Regions from separate parts of the Homo sapiens genome. Here region 2 is linked to region 1. A link means that fine-mapping ties the variant in region 1 to the expression of a gene that starts in the linked region. Tissue or cell type: whole blood. Region 1 holds a variant in brackets; the other region holds the start of a gene. All regions are shown on one strand. Distances are between the middles of the regions.

What was found. PIP is the estimated chance that this variant, and not a neighbour inherited with it, causes the effect.
Region 2: MAD1L1 starts here. The variant in region 1 is fine-mapped to the expression of MAD1L1 in whole blood (INTERVAL, PIP above 0.99).

What each region holds. Positions count from the first base shown.
Region 1 is chr7:2,048,402-2,053,659 of GRCh38, forward strand. All of the region lies in intron 12 of MAD1L1 (mitotic arrest deficient 1 like 1), which reads right to left. Among named protein-coding and RNA genes, the nearest start is that of SNORA114, 38 kb to the right of the region's middle. RefSeq lists an enhancer at 1,065-1,668. The variant A/G (reference allele first, on the strand shown) is at 2,166.
Region 2 is chr7:2,231,021-2,236,020 of GRCh38, forward strand. MAD1L1 (mitotic arrest deficient 1 like 1) reads right to left here and starts at 1,925. Exons shown (of 19, transcript NM_001013836.2): 1 at 1,852-1,925. It overlaps MRM2 (mitochondrial rRNA methyltransferase 2), which reads right to left. Exons shown (of 3, transcript NM_013393.3): 3 at 3,175-4,544. The coding sequence ends at 4,102. RefSeq lists silencers at 1,424-1,843, 1,821-2,199 and enhancers at 1,834-2,128, 1,914-2,043, 2,778-3,310.

The DNA of each region.
Region 1 (5,258 bases):
AGTTTTAAGTGAGATGATTAGAGGGATGTTAATGAAATGAGAAGTTACTCTGACGAATGCCAGCAGTGACCGCTATACATCGAATGCCCACTCACTGCAGGTCCCATGCCAGGTATTTAACATAGGATTTGTCAGGAAATAAATTTGATGAATGGTAATAAGCATCAACCACACTGCATAAGGCCTGGCACAGGGCAGGCAGGTGGGTCAGCCAGGAAGGGGCTGTCCCATAGGATGTTGAGTGATGGCCAAAAAGTCCCCCTCCGCCCCTCTGTGAAGAACCTCCTCCAAGACGAATGCAGAAAACCGCACTCAGCTGAACGGAGCTGTGATGGGAGCCTCCCGAGCCTGGCTGAGCCCCCTGTGCCACACCCCTCCAGCTTCAGGTGCTCTCCCCACTCCACAGTGACTCACAAGCCACCACTCCCACTTCCCCAAGCCAGCGCCAGGCCTTCTCGAGGCGAAGAGCTGTGCCGATTGTCACACTTGCCTGTGTCCAGCCACTGACCGCGTCAACCATGCTGCCATTTTCATCAGGGTCCCATCTTATTTTTAATGTGATTTTGTGTAGCAGGGTGACTTTTAGGAACACACATCACCTTAGAATAGAACTAACCATATGTTTGTTGAGTGAGTTGATGATGAACTACCTCACACATATATTTGAACATTACAATTTAAAAATATTTTCAAAGCATTCCCTCATGTAATCTGTGAATCGGCTCCCCGTGCAGATGGGGTGAGGCGTGCATGCTTCATTCTTCCAGAGAGGAAGCAAAGGCAAAGAGAGGGAAAGGGAGCTGGCGCCAGGCACAAGTGAGAGAGTGACAGAGCTCAGGTTCTAACAGGTTTTCTGATTCCAGCTCCTAGGCTTCCTCCCCCTAGAAGAGAGGAATTCCAGCAGGGCTGGCCTCAGGCCTCCACCTCCCTTCCCGGTGCCCCGCCCAGGGTCAGACCCTCTCCCTGCACAGTGGGGGCCCCCACTCCATGGCCTCTGCTGACTCGGAGCCGACTCAGTAGGTGGCTCATGCCCACCATGGGTGGCAAAAGGCTCGGGGGCAGCTCACCAGCTCACGGGCCTTCTGATGGCACTCAAGAAATTTAGTTTAAACACACACAGATTTTCAAAGAGGCGGTAGGAGGAAGGACTCACCTAGTCCGCCCAGGGGCCTCCTGCAGAAGCAAGATCTGTGCCTGGACCTCACAGACACCTGGGTCCAGCAGCATCCCCATGTCTTGCTGGAGGGCAGGAGCCACCCAAGGGGCACTGGGCACTGCCTGGCGTGGGTGGCCAGACTCGCTTCATCAGCACCAGTGTCCAGGAGGACTATCGAGCACTGTAATTCCCAGGGCACCTCATCCAATGTCTGCAGGCACCAGACCACAGGTTCACAGGGCACCTCATCCAACATCTGCTGGCACCATCTGCGGGCACCAGACCACACGTTCACAGGGCACCTCACCCAACGTCTGCAGGCACCAGACCACACGTTCACAGGGCACCTCACCCAACATCTGCGGACACCAGACCACACGTTCACAAGGAACCTCACCCAACGTCTGCGGGCACCAGACCACACGTTCACAGGGCACCTCACCCAGCGTCTGCGGACACCAGACCACACGTTCACGGGGCACCTCACCCAGCGTCTGCGGGCACCAGACCACACGTTCACGGGGCACCTCACCCAGCGTCTGCGGGCACCAGACCACACGTTCATGGGGCACCTCACCCAGCGTCTGCGGGCACCAGACCACACGTTCACGGGGCACCTCACCCAGCGTCTGCGGGCACCAGACCACACGTTCACGGGGCACCTCACCCAGCATCTGCGGGCATCACCGCCCCTTCCACCTGTTGCACTCCTACGAGAGCTAAGCCAGGTATGAGGCCAGACCAGAAACCAGAGACCAGGATGGAACCTCACGCGCCTGCTGGAAGCAGGGAATCCCCTAGCCAGTGCCTCAGACCCATGTCCACACCCACACGGGCAGACGGAAGCACCAGGCTGAGGGTGGTGAGCCAGGGGGTTCCTGGGCCGCCTCCACTCTGGCTGGTGTCAGGCTGTGGCTTGACCTTTCTGGCAGCTCCGTTGAAGCACCCACAGAACCATGGAGACCACAAGCCAACAGTGGCCTATCACCGGCCTGGAGAAAGTCCAGAC[A/G]CTTCACACCTTCTGACTGAGGCCAGGGACCTCTCCCAGGACCATGGACACAGGGACCCAGGCACCCACCCAGACTGTGGTGCAGGGAACTTACAAGGCTCTTGGGTGTGCCGTGACACCAAGGACAACTGAAGGGGCAGAGGCTGCGGAGGGAGCAGCCCAGTACCCCCGAGGGCGGCTCAGTCCTCAGCAGGCCCACCCACCTGTGCCTCACAGGCCAGGAGCAAACACACCTGTGCGGAACGGCCAGGTGAGGCTGGCTGTCACCTTTAACATCTCTGAATGTCTCCAGGAGGGGCCTAGAGAGGGTTCAGACACCACCACCAGGATGCTGCAGCTATTTTTAGTAGAAAGACTCAAGAGGCTTCCTTGGCAGGGAACCATGCCTTTGAGCATGACCATCAATTTTCACCTGCAGCTAACTTCCTTTCCTTTCAAGATCAAGGTTATTCAAAGATTTGGATTTCTTCGAAACTGAGTTTAAAGAGAGCATGTTTCTCTACCAAACAGGATAGGGGATTTTAAAGCACAAACAAGGACAATGTCAGGCCAAAGCCTGGGTAGGCAGGACAAGGTTCCGGGCCTGGTCCCTCCAGCCCTTCCCAGACACCCTGCAGGCCCTGCTTGTGTCCCCCCGAGGCTGGGCTAAAGCCACCTGTGCCAGCTGGATGATGCCTGGCCTGGGCACTGGAGGAGCCTCCCTGGGCTCCTCTCTAAGCCTCGGTCTCTCTGGTATAAACCTCCAAAGCTGAGGGGGACTGGGAATTCCACAGCCTCTCTCCTAGCAGGACACTCCAGGTTTCTCGTCCATAACCCACGTGGTGCTGTGGAGCCTTGGCCTACAGGACAGAAGGGGCTCCTGGGATCTGGATGAAGTGGTGGCGAGGGGGGCGCTGACCTTGTCCTTCAGGAAGAGCCACGTGGCTCAGCAGGCAAGATCCAAGACGTTTCAACGTGGTATGTTAGAAACTCACACTTAATGCAGAAAAGCCCAGGAACGAGACATTGAAACCGCACATGAAGACTGGGCCTTCCCTGCATCCGCCGGGTCACCTTGCTGTCCCCCACCTCCCCCACCCCCCCACCAGCTGCCCTGCGCCTGCCGGGTCACCTCGCTGTCCCCTACCTCCCCCAACCCCCCACCAGCTGCGCTGTGCCTACTGGGTCACCTTGCTTTCCACCCCCCACCACCCCCACCAGCTGCCCTGCGCCCGCCAGGTCACCTTGCTGTCCACCCCCCAACCCCATCCCCCACCAGCTGCCTGGGGCCCCTGAGGGCTCCTCAGAGCCATGGACAAGCTGAGCAGCAGGTGCCGTGTCAGGCTATACCACATGGGGTGCCAGAAACTGATTTCACTGGGAAGTCTTTTGTTAGGAGTACTCCAAGGGCAAGCGTCCTCTGGGAAGCGTGTTGGGAATGGATGTTTACAGGGGCGTCAGGCAGGGAAACAGCCAGGCGGAAAGACAACCATTCATGCAGAGTCAACACCTGTGCACCCCCTGCATTCCACGAAGGAGCCCCCGGCAGGCCAAGACCCACGCTCCGCACACATCAGAGAGGAGGGGCTGGCCTCAGAGAAGCGAGAGCAGGAGCAGGGTGACCACGGACAAGGGCAGAACCCTATCGTCCTCGCCACGCGCACAGCCACAGCTCCGCCACAGCCAGCCATGGCATGACTCCATATGCCAACAGGCTTCCCTGGCCCCTTCATGTGAGCAACAGAGCACAGGCAGCGGCGTAGTAGGAGCCCCAGGCCTGCCGCCACCACAGTTGGTAACAGCCTCAGGAAGACCACACAGACAGAATGCCCAACAGACAGCAAGCAACAGCACCCAGGAGGGCGCCGGACAGCTCACTAGGGCCCAGGCACAGCAGGCAGGGAGGGCGCCGGACAGCTCACTAGGGCCCAGGCACAGCAGGCAGGGAGGGGGCTGGACACTCACTGGGGCCCGGGCACGGTGCCCAGGGAGGGCACCTGACAGCTCCCTGGGGCCTAGGTATACAGTGGAAACCCTACTTACGTTTATAAGTCCTTATATCTTACAAATAAATGGGTGTGTTCATTATTGGCCGCAGGTCATACCTATCCTTTTTAAACAAATATGCACGTATCAGTGTGCAAATTCCACAGTTTTTATAAAGGGGTACACCATCAAAATAAACCTGGAGCAAACAGCTGGGACACAGCTACGGCAGCTGGCATGGGCATGGCCCTGGCGCCACAGACTGCTGCCCGGAACAGACAGAGGAACCGGGAGGGAGCTGGGGCCCCAGCCTGGAGCATGGGGGAGGGAGGCGCTGGACCTCCGGGGCCATGGGGAGATAGGAAGCCATGTGTCCCCAGCAGGACATGTGGGAGGAGGAAATCCAGAAGGGAGAGCTGCCCCAAGTCCCGGGACAGCGGAGGCTCCTCCACCAGCCTGAGGAGGGAACGGGTGGGTGCCGCCTCCAGTGCCTGCATCTGAAGGCCGAGCCGTCCCTGCCCTGGCACCTGCTCCCAGCCACTGCCTACCCTCCTGCTCTGCCACTGACAGCTACACGTCTTGCGACTTTGGTTGTTGGGAAAGTTGAAAGCAAGTAACACCCTCTTCCACATTGCTGACATTAGCTCAGGCATCAGAAGCAGAAGCCTCGGGATCTGCTACCTGGTAGCAGGCCCTTCCTGAAAACCGGTGAGTTTGGGGGCCGCGGAGGCCCATGCAGACGGTGAGGCTGGGACCAAGAGTCCTCCGGGCGGGGGCAGAGCACAGGGCAGGTGAGGCAGAGGCAGGAGAGCTGCTCCCTGGCCACTCCAAAGGCCTCAGCACCTCCTGTAGGTGAAGGAGTCCAATATTCACCAGGCATTTACTCAGAGCCTGCTGTATGCAAGGAACTGTGCCAGCCGCCGGTGAACAAGGGAGAAAAGGGCCTGCCTCAATGCTATGAGCCGGACGCCGGGGATGATCTGGGTTCCGGGAAGTAGAGAAGCTGTGTGAAGGCCCCAAGGCCCTGGCGGGCGGCAGGAAAGCAACGGGGAAGCAGAGGAGGCTGCAGAGGTGGGGCCCATCTTCCCCGCACAGCACGTTCCAGCCAGGGCCTGGGGACACGGGTTA
Region 2 (5,000 bases), 180 kb after region 1:
CTGGCCTCTTGCCCAGGCAGGGTGGTTCACGCCTCTAATCCCAGCACTTCGGGAGGCGGAGGCAGGTCCGGAGTTCAAGACCAGAATGGCCAACATGGCAAAACCCCACCTCTAATAAAATACAAAAACTAGCCGGGTGTGGTGGTGTGCGCCTGTAATCCCAGCTACTCAGGAGGCTGTGGCACAAGAATCGCTTGAAACTGGGAGGCAGAGGTTGCAGTGACCTGAGACCGCACCACTGCACTCCAGCCTGGGTAACGGGGTGAGACAGTGTCTCAAAATAAATAAATGAATGAATAAATAAATAAATAAACATAAGCCAGGCACTGTTGCTCATGCCTGTAATCCCAGCACTTTGTGAGGCCAAGATGGGCAGATCACCACAGGTCAGGAGTTCGAGACCAGCCTGGCCAACATGGTGAAACCCCATCTCTACTAAAGCCAGATGTGGTGGCGTGCACCTGTAATCCCAGCTACTCCGGAGGCTGGGACAGGAGATTTTCTTGAACCCAGGAGATGGAGGTTGCAGTGAACTGAGATCGCGCCACTGCATTCCAGCCTGGGTGCCAGAGCAAGACTCCGTTTCAAAAAATAATAATAATTAATTAAAAAAAAAATCTGGCCTCTGGGAATCAGAAACGAGGCATGCAACAGTGACAGTAAAGATGATGATCATCACAGCTGTGCTCATTTTCATTGTTTATTTCTAGTGACATTAATAAGTACTACTACTATTTTCAACTAGGTATCAGAAAGAAAGGTATCTGACATTTCCGAGCACCGAGACTTCTTGAACTTCAGTTTCCTCATCTGTAAACTCATGACAGTGAAATCTACTTGCAAAGTTGTGGGGAACGGGGCCAATATCCCTCAAGTCTTCCACCGCTAGATGATGGGAATACGGCTGCAGGTTGACCAGCACTATATTTGTAAGCTCAGTCTCAACAGGGTGGTGAATTAGGTCTTTTTACACAGATTCTAGAGATGATGAAACCGAAGCTTCAAAAAGTTACAGAACGGAGATTGGAACTTGGGTCTGTCTGGCTTTGGAAGGCTGAAGACAAACCGCAGTAAAGAACTTTGCACCCCCAACACCGGCGCTTACTATGGGCTCATGGCAGGCCGGCCCACCAGCCACAACTAGGGAACAGCCAAGCGCGTTTAAAAGCCAAAGGTAGAACTTCTGCAGCTGCACAGTTTCTGAGTTTCCATTTAACAAGAACCTTGGCCTGGTGCAAGCAGAGGCCTGAGCTCCCCAGGCTGCCAGCCCCGCAGAGGCAGGCCCGCCTGGAAGGAGGCTCCACAGCCCAATTCCTCCATTGCCCAAACGAGATCAGGGTGGCCCTTGCCATCCCCGAGGGGAAACCGGGCCCACACGCCCCCTTCCTGAGAGCGGACCGGCGCGAGCCACCAGGATGCCAAGAGCCCCTGCAGCCCCGACTTCTCCACCAGGCGCCAGCTCAGGCCCCTTCCTCGGCGCGCCGGCACCCTAGCCCGGGGACCCACACGGTAGGCAGCGGGACCCCGGGGCTGGGACCACGAGCACGCGCCCCTCGGCCGCCCGCCCTGGCACAAGGGACGGCTGCGGAGACCCAGGCGAGGGGCCCGCTGTCCCCAGCACAGCCCAAAGGGGGAGTGGGGACAGGGGAGTGGGGAGAGGAGGGGAGAGCACAGAGAGGAGAGCGCGCCCATGGGAGACGGGGCGGGCGCGGGGTCCTGAGGCACGGGGTCTGGGTCGTTGTGCCCCACCCTGGCGAGCACACCCGGTCCGGGCCCTCGGCCCCTCCCTTGCCATTCCCGGGACCCCCGGGACCCCGGGACCCCGCCGCCCGCGCGAGCCGGGCCGCTTACCTCAGCCGCTCGCAGCCAGCTTGCCGCCGCCGCTCGGATCTCCCTCCGCTCCGCCGGCGCCCATTTATCGCGACACTTGCGCCTGCGCTCTCGCGAGACCTGCGTGGCAATCGGGCCGTAAAGAACCGAGTCTGCGCACCGGCTGATCCTGGGGACTCCGCGTCCGCACCCGGAGCCGCCACCCCTGGGAGACTCCGCACGGAAAGGACTCGGAACCGAAGGCTGAGCCAAGGCGCAGTCGGGGGCCCCCCGGCTTTGCGCAGGACGCGCTTCCACTAAGGCTTTCGCCTCGCGCCGTAATGTGTGGAATAGCCGCGCCCACGGCAGCCTCCTCGGACAAACTTGCACCGTTGACTCTTCCCAAAATTTTGCTACTCAGTATCAGCTTGAATCAATCCGTTATTTTGCTTTTTTCTGGGCCCACTAGAAATGCAATTTATGCTACTAGGCTACCTTCCCAGTGCTCTGCAAGCCAGGGCACAGCATCCAATGGGGTGAGGTCAGGCCCCACCATTATTATGGTAACCTTTGTCTATCCTTCAAATTGGAGCCTTCCTGAGAAGAGTGTGCCTTACTCGTTTCCATATTCTCTTCCTCTCCTCCTCCCGTCTCTGCCCAGCCCCTGGCTTCCCTCTAAGAAGATGCTGTTCCTAAGGGTCTGCAATGAATTTTCCTTCTTTCAGAGAAAGACTTCCAAGTTGTGTGCCCCGGGAATGAAATGGAATAAGAGAACGAGGTGGAGTAGGGCAAGAGTCCCTGGACTTAACAACCTGACTGCAACCAGAAATAAAATGAAAAGTCAAAACATCTGGCGGCCGGGCGCGGTGGCTCACGCCTGTAATCCCAGCACTTTGGGAGGCCGAGGCAGGCGGATCACGAGGTCAGGAGATCGAGACCATCCTGGCTAACACGGTGAAACCCCGTCTCTACTGAAAATACAAAAAAAAAAAAAAAAAATAGCCGGGCGTGGTGATGGGCGCCTGTAGTCCCAGCTACTCGGGAGGCTGAGGCCGAATGGCGTGAACCCGGGAAGTGGAGCTTACAGTGAGCCAAGATCACTTCACTGCACTCCAGCCTGGGTGACAGAGTGAGATTCTGTTTCTCAAAGAAAAAAAAAAATCAAAACATCTGACCCGCAGTTTCCTTCGGGGAGCTGGACAGAGCCCCAGATTCCTGATGGAGATTCCTGGGTTTCCAGACTTCCCCCACTGGTCCTTGGAATTTAATCATAGTCAACAAACTCTTCTTGAGGGATGAGTACACCTCCAGGAAATGGCTTTGAGGAAGCCAGTTTAAAAAAAACAAAACTTCAAAGCATGAAAGTACCTTAAAATAATGCAATCTCTATTATTTTATTAAATATAAAGCTGCGTCAAGTTCCTAGATGAGTAAAAGAAAATAAACACACCACATCACTGCTTGCTTTGGCAATTACATTTATGTTCTTGGGAGCCCAGACACTGATATAAATTTCCAGCAAAAACCAAAGCAGACCCACTGCCTGGATAAATTCAGACCATACGTCTTCCCTAATTGTTCCGGGAACTTTTGCTGCTTGAAGAATGCGTGAATTGCTATATTGTTCACCAGAAAGACAGAAGTTAATCCCCAGATGGAAATTTCAGATTTTTCTTTTGGTTTGCTTTTTGGTTTTTCATTTTTGTAGACATGGGGGGTGTTGCTATGTTGCCCAGGTTGGTCTTGAACTCCTGACTTCAAGCAATCCCCCAGCCTCAGCCTTCTAAAGCCCTGGGTTTACAGGCATGAGTGGCCTCACCCAGCCCCCAGATTTTCTACTTTAAACAGCCACACTAAGAACTGGAAATCTGTGCGTGGTGCTCTCAGAGCAGGGGTGGAAAGCCTGTTTGTGTGTGACAGTTTAACAGTCTATAAGATGAAGTCCCGTCAAGGCACACATGGGCACACCCATCCCTGCCTCGGCGGATTCCTTCTGATCCTTCCCACAGTCTGTTTTTCTCCATCCTTCCATCCTCACCTCTTTCTCTTGATAACTTTCTCTTCCCAAATCACAATATAGCGGACTTTTTCATTTTCCATGGCCCCTGAACTTAGTTTTGTCATCTCTTTTTGGTTAAAAAGAGAGAGAGAGAAAGAGAGAGAGAGACTCCCCACTTGTCCTGCTCCATCTCCAAAATCAGCTCAAATCTCCCAGGAACTCTTCAGGAGCTCAGGCTACGTTTCTAGCTTAAAAGGAGCTAATGACCATTATGAAAATGGCACAAGAAATCCTCACTGCTTCACAGTGCCCTTCCTTCCGTGGTACTGTGTGGCCAAGAAGTACACTTCTGATGACTCTTTCCTGCTGGCTTCAGGTTTGATGATCCTTACATTCTGGAATTCCTCTGTCAGTCTCCTCTGTAACCGACGGCTTTGACTTCCAGCCCAGGTTTTACAAAGGAATGTCCCCCCAGGTTGCAGGATGTCTGGGGTCACGCTGAGAAGGGTCAGGCACAGGCTGATGAGCCTGTCATGATCGAGGTCCCGGAACCCTGTGGCATTGGGCGCCATGTCGCTCAGAATCACATCTGCTCTCCTGCCAGGAAGCACCTCGAGGATTCTCTGTGAGGTTCTCGGGTCAGTCACGTCAGCAGGGCACAGAAAAGTTGCTCCTTCCAGGGGGAATATGTGAAGAAGATCTACCCCAAGCACGAAGCCAACAGGAGAGCTGGGATCTATGGAAGAAATGGTGAATGTGTTATTTATTTACACCCTGAATCTTTTTACAAAAATACAGTACATGCAACAAAGTGATGAAATAAAAATAAAATGTCAAGACCAAGGCAAAGAGCTAATGTGCAAATAGGTAAACACAGGCCTTCTCTATCTATACATCCTATAAAGACACATGGTGGAGATGGCGGGCCTTAACATCTGAGAAGCTGAGGCCCAGACAGGAAGTGACTGTCCTAGAGTCATCCTCAGCCATGGGCAGACCTGTGCCAGGCATCAGGACTTCTGATTCCAAATCTGGTATCATTTCACTACCCAAGGCTCACTCTCTGTGAAAGGGTTCTTATCTCTGAGTGCTCTTTTTGATAAACTAAAATAGAAAATAGGCCAGTCCCAGTGGCTCACACCTATAATCCCAGCACTTTGGGAGGCTGACACGGGTGGATCACCTGAGGTCA